2 separate regions of the Homo sapiens genome follow, and region 1 is linked to region 2. The links come from fine-mapping of genetic effects on gene expression. A gene starts in region 2. The other region holds a variant in brackets. All regions are shown on one strand. Distances are from middle to middle.

Region 1 (5,385 bases), 42 kb after region 2:
CAGAAACCCATTGCAATGGGAAGCACGTGCACAAGATTTGGAAGAGAAAGGGGTCATTATTTTCTGGAAGCGGCTGCAGGCACATGACCAAGATAGAAGGTTTGAAGCAGTTTCCAGGTGAGCTTCCCGAAAATCACCTGCATCACTCCTGCAGACTGAGAGGTCAGAGGGAATCTCCCAGAGGTTAATTTCAGGTGTCTTTTGTGCAAACTCTTGAGAACCTCATAGTGCAAAGGCTGAGATTGTTGCTGACAGCCTTCTTCACCTTGGTTTCTGCAGCCTTCTAACCATTGGGTAAGCCTCTAATTCCCTGCATTGAAAATATTCATACTTGGAATATATTGAGAGGCTTCTGCTTTCATGCCTAATCCCTGACTGACTTGTTCAATAAATATTTGGAGAATGAATGAAAAATAATTCCATCATATTAAAAAGTCAGTAGATATTCCACTGATATTTATCATTCAAGGGGAAGGGGCTAATACTAATTGTGAGTCATGTGGCAGGCAGTTTCCTATGCATTATTTACCACCTTCCAGTAATCTTGATAGATCACTATTATTGTCTCATTTTATACATGAGGATATGGAAAAATGAGAATCAAACAGATACACCAACTCACAAAGCATTGCCTTAACGTTCTACCATGTTACCTTAGTGTACGTCAACTTAGTGTATGCTTTTGTGGATAATCACAAGAAATTTCAAGGGCCATTTGAAACCCAATATTAGCCACATTTTTCAGTTTTTCCTACCCACCAAGAGCAATAAATCCTGAGTTCCTCTCAATTATACCACTGAATGGACTACCTATAGCCAATGAATTCAATTAAAATATTTGAGTCTTTTTTTTCAATTATTTAGATATTATATACTTAACTATTGCTAAGAATGAGCATTTTTTATGGCAGGTGAAATGGCAATGGTAGAAATAATTTTTTTAATATCTAAAATTTGGGGTGAAGTGGATTTAAGAACTCAAAATGGAAAGGACATTGTATCATAAAAGACCAAGCAATATAAATTACCAGTTATAGTTTAGTCACCCACTAAAATCTGTTTAGCTCCTTTGGAACATGTCCAATAACTACTTCTCCTTGACCTTATGTAAATGCTGAAGACTTTGATTCTAAATACAATCACCTGAAATACTTTTTAAAGAGTTATTGTTCATTACAAAGTATGCAGAATGTTTCAGAGAACATAATTACTTGTGTGCTTATAAACATTATAGTCATTTGATAAATTATTTTCTATATTTAACAATAAAGTTAATTTATATATTTGATTTAAAAAGGAAATAGACAAAATTATCAAAAAATATAGTGGTAGGAAAATGTAAAATATTTAGTAATATATTTTAGAAAAAATCTCATTCCAAAAGGATTAATGTTCATGAGTTAATATTTAACATTTTGCTAGAAAATTGGTAATCCCACAAAAAGATTAAAATACCTAGGAATATAGCTAACTGGGGAAGTAAATTATCTGCAGTAAGAATTACAAAACACTGCTGAAAGAAATCAGAAATGACACAAACAAATAAAAAAATTCCATGCTCATGGATAAGAAGAATCAATATTGTTATATTGGCCATACTGCCCAAACCAATTTACAGATTCAATGCTATTACTATCAAACTACCACTGTCATTTTGCACAGAATTAGAAAAAAACTATTCTAACATTCAAATGGAACCAAAAAAGAGCCTAAATAGCCAAAGCAATCCTAAGCAAAAAGAACAGAGGCATCACACTACCTGATTTCAAACTATACTACAAGGCTACAGTAGCCAAAACAGCATGGTACTGGTACAAAAACAGACACATAGACCTAGAGAACCCAGAAATAAAGCTGCACACCTACAACCCTCTGACATTCAACAAAGTCAAAGATAACATGCAATAGAGAAAGAAGTCCCTATTCAATAAATGGTTTTGGGATAAGTGGCTAGCCATATACAGAAGATGGCGGAAGATTGAAACTGAACCCCTTCTTTCATAATATACAAAAATCAACTCAAAAATGGAATAAAGACTTAAATGTAAGACCTAAAACTATAAAAACCCTAGGAAAAAAAATCTAAGAAATACCTTTCTAGACATAGGCCTTAGCAAAGATTTCATGACAAAGTCTCCAAAAGTAGTTACAACAAAAACAAAATTTGACAAGCGGGAACTAATTCAACTAAAGAGCTTCTGCACAGCAAAAGAAACTATCAACAGAGTAAACAGACTACCAACAGAATGGGAGAAAATATTTGCAAACTATGCAAACAACAAAGGTCTAATATCCAGAATCTACAAGGAACTTAAACTCAATGAGAAAAAAACAAAGAACCTCATTTAAAAAGTGGGCAAAGGACATGAAAAGACACTTCTTAAAAGAAGACATATAAGCAGCCAACTAACATGAAAAAATGCTCAACATCACTAATTAGCAGAGAGGTGCAAATTAAAACCACAATGAGATACCATCTCACATCAGTCAGAATGGCTATTACTAAAAAGTCAAAAACTAACAGATGTTGGCAAGGCTATGGAGAAAAGGGAATGCCTATACACTGCTGGTGGGAGTGTAAATTAGTTCAGCCACTGTGGAAGGCAGTTTGAAGATTTCTCAAAGAACTAAAAATAGAACTACCATTTAATCCAGTAATCCCATTATAGTTACATACCCAACAGAATATAAATCATTCCACCAAAAAGACA[C/T]GTGCACTGTATGTTCGTTACAGCACTGTTCACAACAGCAAAGACAGAGAATCAACGTAGGTGCCCATCAACAGTGGACTGGATAAAGAAAATGTGGTATTTATACACCATGGAATACTATGCAGCCATAAAAAAGGAATGAGATCGGCCAGGCATGGTGGCTCACGCCTGTAATCCCAGCACTTTGGGAGGCCAAGGTGGGTGGATCACAAGATCAGGAGATCGAGACCATCCTGGCTAACATGGTGAAACCCCGTCTCTACTAAAAATACAAAAAATTAGCCAGGCGTGGTGGTGGGCACCTGTAGTCCCAGCTACTCGGGAGGCTGAGGCAGGAGAATGGTGTGAACCCGGGAGGCAGAGCCTGCAGTGAGCTGAGATAGCGCCACTGCACTCCAGCCTGGGCGACAGAGTCAGAATCCATCTCAAAAAAAAAAAAAAAGAATGAGATTATGTCCTTTGCAGCAACACAGATGCACCTACAAGCCATTATCCTAAGCGAATTAATACAGAAATAGAAAATCAAATATCACATGTTCTCACTTATAAGTGAGTGCTAAATCTTGGTTATACACATGCATAAAAATGGGAACAATAGACACTGGGAACTCTAAAAGGAGAGAGGGAGAGGGGCAAGGCTTTAAAAACTTTCTATTTGGCACTTGGTTCACTATCTGGGTGATCAGATAAATAGAAGCTCAAACCTCAGCATCACACAATATACCCTTGAAACAAACCTGTGCATGTTCCCCCCAAATTAAGAAAAAATAAAAATATTTTTAAAATCTCATTTTTAAAAACAATATGATCAATTAAAATAACTTAAATAACTTACCAGCAAAACATATAACAATCCAGAATTAAAATATTCAGAAAGCAAGCAAGTCATCTTGTACTACCAGATTCTTTTTGAAGAATGACGTTTATAAAATGAAGAGAACCAATTTTACCTGCCTGTGCTAATGGAAAATAAGTTCAAGAAATGTCCTAGTTATAATTTTCAGTTAGCCCAACATTAACATTGCCCAGAGTTTAGTGTGACAGCCACCTTGAAGCCCTTGTAAATTCTATCGCCTTGGATGAATCACAACTGATTGGTTTATCAATGCATATAATTCAGATTGTTCTGAATAAAGGTGGCTTCCCTGAAGGACCCAAGATAACTTCATGAAATAAATGTATCACATCCAGTTAATAGATGAGGCAAAGAACATTATTTATTTCAAAAGAGAAATCTTATTCTTTTGTGGTAGAGTAAAAGAAAGATTGAATACAAAATAAAATTGCTAATTAAGAAAAAGGAAAGCCACCTATACTCATTTGCTCATGAAAAAGAAACCTAGCTGAGAAGACTGGCAGGCAAGAAACACAGTGGACTAGTATTGCAGGAAGGAGAATGTTGGAATAGAAAAGTTTATTTGTTCTCTGAGATCTGCTCTTATTGAAGTGGATCAAGGATGAAAATACCCAAATTTGAGTATCAGAAGACCTTCCAGTCTACTTGATGCATGAGCTCTACAGTTTTAAGAAGCAAAACTATAAAACAGTGTAAGAAGATATATTTTCCCTGACCTCTATTTGTGATTTCCTCTATTTATCCTTAAAAGCAACTCTTACAAAAGCATAAACTTTATACATATTTGCATGGTAGGCACATTCACATATTGCTGTTGTGTTTTTCATTTTACAGGAACAAAATATGTTCATTAGTGGGAAAATAAAAAGGAACCATAGACAAGCAAAAGGCAGAAAATAGAAAACACTCAGAACCTCACTCACAGACCACTATCTTCAACTTTGTGTGCCCGCTTCTAAGGCCTAATCTTTTCTTAAAAATTATTTAATTTTAAAATGCAGACTTAAATACACATTTCTACATGAACATGATCATATCAAACATATTTTTTTCAAATATTATTTATTTCAAAAAAGAAACCTTATTGCTTTGTGGTAGAGTAAAAGAAAGATTGAATAGAAAATAACATTTCTAATTAAGAAAAAGATGTCTAGGTGGCTGGCAAGATGGCCAAATAGGAACAGCTCCAGTCTGCACCTCCCAGCAAGATCAAAGCAGAAGGCAGGTGATTTCTGCATTTCCAACTGAGGTACCCGGCTCATCTCACTGGGACTGGTTATACAGTGGATGCAGCACATGGAGGGTGAGCCGAAGCATGGTGGGGCATTGCCTCACCCAGGAAGCACAAGAGGTCAGGGAACTCCCTCCCCTAGCCAAGGGAAGCAGTAAGGGACTGTGCCATGAGGAACGGTGCATTCCAGCCCAGATACTATGGTTTTCCCACAGTCTTCACAACCCACAAACCAGGAGATTCCCTCAGGTGCCTATGCCACCAGGGCCCTAGGTTTCAAGCACAAAACTGGGTGTCCATTTGGGCAGACACCGAGCTAGCTCAGGAGTTTTTTTTTATACCCCAGTGGCACCTGGAATGCCAGTGAGACAGAACCATTCACTCCCATGGAAAGGGGGCTGAAGCCAGGGAGCCAAATGGTCTAGCTCAGAGGATCCCACCCCCATGGAGCCCAGCAAGCTAAGATCCACTGGCTTGAAATTCTTACTGCCAGCACAGCAGTCTGAAGTTGACCTAGGATGCTCAAGCTTGGTGGGGGGAGGGGCGTTTACCATTACTGAGGCTTCAGTAGGGGGTTTTCCCCTCAC
Region 2 (5,385 bases):
CCTTCAATAAACGTGTATTATTTATGTTATCAATAAACAAAGTAACTATTACAATATCTTGGTATATTTGTACACTTTGACCCAGCAATTCTATTTTTAGGACTATATCCTAACCTAAGGAAATAAACAGATGCACATACAAAGAGGTATTTAGAAGTATGTTATTTGATGATTTGTTTATAATAATAAAATACTAGAAACAACTCAAATGCTCAACAATATAATTTGTTTTAAAAAATTACAATGTATTCAAACAATGGAATATTTCACATCTTTAAAATCAGATTCTTGGCTGTGTGCAGTGGCTCATGCCTATAATCCCAGCACTTTGGGAAGTGGTGGCAGGAGGATTGCTTGAGTCCAGGAGTTCAAGACCAGCCTGGGCAACATAGCAAGACCCTGTCTCAATAAAGAACAAAAAACAGATTCTTGAAAACATGTAAGAATAAGGGGAACTTCTCAAGACATTAAGTAAAAAAGGCATATAGATAGACAGATATAATGCAATTAAAGGTTTGATTGCCTAGAAAAACATTAGAATATACATTAATATGCTAGCAGGGATTACCACTGGGCAGTGAAATTATTTTACAGATTATTTTGATTATCCTTTTTGATAATTTTTATGCTTTCAATGATGTAATTCTTATGAACAGAAAAAATACGTAAATGGTAAGAGTGTTTTTTTGCTAGCAGTATTAAGATATAAGATCTATATAAGCATGACCCCTACAGATATTTTCTTCAAACTATCACTTCTACTCAATTTATCAGTTTACCACACAGGAATATAGGAATATTTAAATGTTTTGTTTTAGTCCGTGGGTCTGTCTGACAAACAATAGAAAGAATTTTGACCAAAAAATTTGCTTGCTCTGTAAGATGCTTAAAACAACAGAAAAAAAGGGATATTTGTGGGTGGACTGGCCCAAGACTCACATCTCTAAACTGTGACAAGAAGCTTTCTTAATCATTTACCTCTTCAGAATCTAAGCCAGCAAAGGTCAAAGCAGTCCAGACACAACACAAGGTGTAGTGTAGCCTTCCTCCCTGATGCAAGGGCTACATCCACAGTGTGAAGGAAGTTTTTGGAGTTCAATGAGAGAGTTTATGCCTTTAACATAGCTCTGGTAGTAGCCACTGATCAATACAAAGGCTAGACAAATAGGTGGGAAAGTGGAATAAATACCTATCTATCTAGATAGATATTTGTATACAAATATTTGTATGTATTTAACTACTTAATATATCTTTTATGTTGTAAAAGGCTTAGCATTATGTTTGCACATTGTATCATGAGCAACAAGCCTCCAAATTTACCTATGCCACTGATGTGTGGACTCAATGAATATTTCCTGAAAGCCTATGTGTAAAGCATGGTCCTGGCCATCGGAGACAGAAAAAAACACAGTCCTGTCTTCCTTTCCAGATGAAGACACAAAGACAATTCTGTGGATCACATGTGATTTTTCAATGTCTCTCTTCTCCAAAAAAGAGACATTGGACAAAAAAAAAATGGACAAAATAATAACTGAAATTTACTGATGTTTCACGTAAATTTAGTGTAATACCACTTTAAAAGTTCATATATATTGCTGTATATATATTGCTACATAGCCTGGGAATATCACTAGTGAAATTTACCAAAGGCAGTTCTCAAACCTGAGATAATTTATGGAAATCTTCAAGATAGGGTGCAGTATATTATGATTTCTCCTGATGGAATAAAAGACTTACACTGACTTTTGACTCTACGAAGCTCATTCACTACTTTCAAGTTTTATGACAGGGTTTGGAAATACAATAGGGCAACAATTTTGGCTTCCCAGATGGACAGCCAGAATTGAAACCAAGAGCCGATCAATATCAGACCAACAAAATAATTAAAAGCGGAAAGTGAAAAGGAAAGGAAAAGAAATGGAAAGCAGATATGTGAGCTTAAGGGAGGTAAAGCAAAAATTAATATTTACTTGACTTGTCCGTTCTCCGTGTAGGTGGTTCTATAAAATCCCACGAGGGAGCCGTTCAGCCAGCCGGCGAACTCCATGGTCAGGAGATACAGGCCATCTCCACTGCTGGGGGTAAGCTCTTCCTCCGCCTCGACCACCACGTACTCCTGCTTTTTGTACTCGAAACACCTCCGGACTTGCACCTGGTCCCCAGAGGGCCTCTTCAGCTCCGGGAGCCGGGTGATCCTGGTCTCCCGGAGGTGCAGCCACAGGTACCGGGTGGGAGCGCTCAGGTTGATGGAGATGCTCACGGTGCCCGTGTAGGTGTCCTCCTCCAACAGGGGCTTCACGTGCAGGTCGTAGTGGACTGGGTTGACGAAGTCCGGCAGTCGAAAGTTTTTCCACTGTCCGCTCTCATCCTCACTGGCCGGGCAGATGTCCTGGTCCTGGGCAGGAGGACCTGAGGGGCTGGCCGTGGAAGAAGGCAGGTGGGAAGGAGCTGGCGCAGTGCCCGGCCCGCCGTCCCCGCTGGAGTCACACGATCTGGTCAAGCCCACGGCAAGTCCCACTATTAATCCTACACCCACCACCACCGCACAGAGAATGGCCACATGTTTCGTTTGAATGCAGTATCTCTTAGAGCCCTCTCTCTCCGCAAAGTTCATTTTTGCTTCCAAAGTCAAGTGTTACACATAAAAAGATGTTAAATTTAACTAACTAACGTCAGCAGACTTCCTTTTTAAATTGGAAGGAATCCCCTGATTTGGCAGCCTGTTTTCGCTTTTCCCACACCCCTCTCTCTGGCTTCTTGCGCCTTTTCCTCTCCCTTTTCACGTTCCCACCAGCCACTCAGGATGAATGCGGAAACAAGGGGGGTGGAATGAGGACTCCGTAAGAGGAGCCGAGTGGGAGGAAGAGGGCTGGCAAGAAGATTGTCACAGCTCCCCTTATAAACGACGCATCTCCACCCCTACCCCTCCTGCACTGCAGCGAGTTAAATATAAAACAGGGCTTCGCTTATCAGCCAACGGGAGGATGAGCCCTCGCCAAAGCTCCGTCAGCAGCTTTCAGGGAGCAAGCGTTTGGGTGAGGTGTGCTTACGATAGAAAATCTCAACCTTTGCCACTCAGCCTGGGGCTTCTTCCTGTTGTGTTCGCAATCTCTCCCTCCTAACTAAAGGGCTTCTTGAATTTCAGCTATTTTATCAGATAGCTTGCTAAAGAAGCTAAGTGTTTTCTTTTATTTTTTTTCCCTCATATTATGTAAACATTCCAATTCTGTCCTTTGAAGAAGTCATATCCTGGAATTGGGTGCTCAGGGTGATTCAAGGACCACCTAGGTACTCAGTAAATATTTGTCGAATTAGATTTGGAAAGCATAGCCAGGTAAACCTAAATCAGTTCAGCTGGTGCTGGGTGAATGAGAGAGGGGGAACCCAAAGAAATTAGCCAAAGCAGTAGTGGAGCTGGAAAGCTTAAGAAGAGAGAGGGAACAAGAGGGGGAGAAGTCTGAAAGGACAGAGGGACAAGGAAGAAGGCCTACTTGTCTCTGCAGTGTGCCTCCAAGTGAGATTGACTTCCTTAGACTTTGATGTGGTAGAGCACGTTTAAAGTAGATTCCAGATGTGAAAATTGACCTGTTGGGAAATCCATCATCCATGCAAATCTATCATTTTGTTTCTGAATGACAAGCTCAGGAAGAAAAATCTCAATGAACTTCATATTTACTGGCAGCTTAGCTATGGACTGACATTTAGAGAGGTTAAGCTATTGCTCAAGGTCACACACCTGGCAAATAGCAGAACTGGGGTTTGAACCCACGTTGTCTGAGTCTAAAGTCCATATATCTGGCCAGGTGTGGTGGCTCACGCCTGTAATCTCAACACTTTGGGAGGCTGAGGCAGGTGGATCACCTGCGGTCGGGAGTTTGAGACCAGCCTGGCCAACGTGGTGAAACCCTGTCTCTCCTAAAGATACAAAAATTAGCCAGGCGTGGTGGAACACATCTGTAATCCCAGCTACTCAGGAGGCTGAGGCAGGAGAATTGCTTGAAGCTGGGAGGCGGAGGTTGCAGTGAGCAGAGACCGTGCCATTGTACTCCAGCCTGTGTGACAGAGCAAGACTCCATCTCAAAATAAATAAATAAATAAATAAAATTAAAAAAATTAAAGTCCATATATCAACGATCGCATTCTACTGCTTGCTTCCATGCTCTGAGGAGGATAAATATTCAAGGGTTAAGTAACTATGAAAAACTTGGTATTTCCCCAGATACAATCCATGGATATTAACAGATCTACTTGCCAAGCAAACAATGCTGGGTTAAAGTGAAAAATCTTCTTTTACTACTCTCCATTCTTGCAGAGCCTCCAGATGGTGACACACATTGTGAGCCTCTCAGAGAGGAAACACGACGGAGTACTTTCCCCATTTAGTTGACAAGACAGCTTTTTCTGGTGAGGTACCTTTTGAGGGCCCTCTGTTCCACAGAGCACACTCTGAGAAACGTTGTTTCAAACGGTTCTAAATTACAAACTAAACAAACAAACAAAAAACAAAACTTTAAAAGCAAACGGGTCCATTTTACTCTGTAACATTTCTGCTGTTTTTCTCACAAAATAGTAGTAACAGAAAAAGAATTAAAGGAAAAAGGGATATGTTTTTCTAAATTGTAGGCCCATCTTGTATTGATTAATTTTACATTCTGAAGCAACCCTAAACTTCTTGAGATCACAGTATGTTTAAGTTTGGCACATTAACTTCCTGAATTTTAGCCCTTGAAACCCTCTTTTTATTGAAAAGATCATCTGACATTTCAATAAATGTTTGATGGGTCAAATATTTTGATATGTTTCTTAGGAATGAAAGGCAAAAATGTGGCTCAAATTTACCTAAACATAGTGAAAGGAAAAGCAAAAAGTATTTGGAAGAATGTACATAAAATTATGTTAAACTGGAAGTATTTTTTAAAATCTCAGATGTGGCAAACATTTGAAATCTCTTAAACTTGACCTTGTGGCAAACATATATGAAATCTCTTAAACTTGCCCTTATTTACAAAGACAACAATCTTATCACCAGGTCTTATGTACAGAGAAGATAATAGACCTTTGGGTTGGGTACACTTAAGGAAGATTAAGAATGGCCACCTGCTATGAAAAAGCTCTACTACTCTGCCTGAAATTCTACCATAATGAATATACTATTTAAATGCATTTTTTTTTGCCAGAAGAAATAAAATACCCTAAGTCCACATATGGGGTGTGTGTGTGTGTAGGTTTTGAGTCCACAGCCCAGTTCTAGCCACAGTATCTTATTAGTACCAACCTGTGTGAGCTGACTGCATCCAATGAAGGGCACCACATCTTGTGAGGATCAGCATATTAGGGTGACCTAATACAGCCAGATGAGCAGAGGTAGAAGGGCCAGCATGTGCA

Direction of the effects. Positions count from the first base shown, and alleles are read on the strand shown. Sizes are in standard deviations (SD) of each study's normalised expression.
For the expression in esophagus muscle of the gene that starts at base 2,874 in region 2, allele C in region 1 goes with a lower level than allele T (small effect, 0.32 SD a copy in GTEx).

What was found. PIP is the estimated chance that this variant, and not a neighbour inherited with it, causes the effect.
Region 1: its variant is fine-mapped to the expression of ENPEP in esophagus muscle (GTEx, PIP 0.92).

Annotation. Positions count from the first base shown.
Region 1 is chr4:110,431,964-110,437,348 of GRCh38, reverse strand. It overlaps LOC124900892 (small nucleolar RNA U2-19), which reads left to right and starts at 4,161; the gene lies at 4,161-4,240. The variant C/T (reference allele first, on the strand shown) is at 2,712.
Region 2 is chr4:110,473,644-110,479,028 of GRCh38, reverse strand. It overlaps ENPEP (glutamyl aminopeptidase), which reads right to left and starts at 2,874. Exons shown (of 20, transcript NM_001977.4): 1 at 1,971-2,874. The coding sequence starts at 2,614.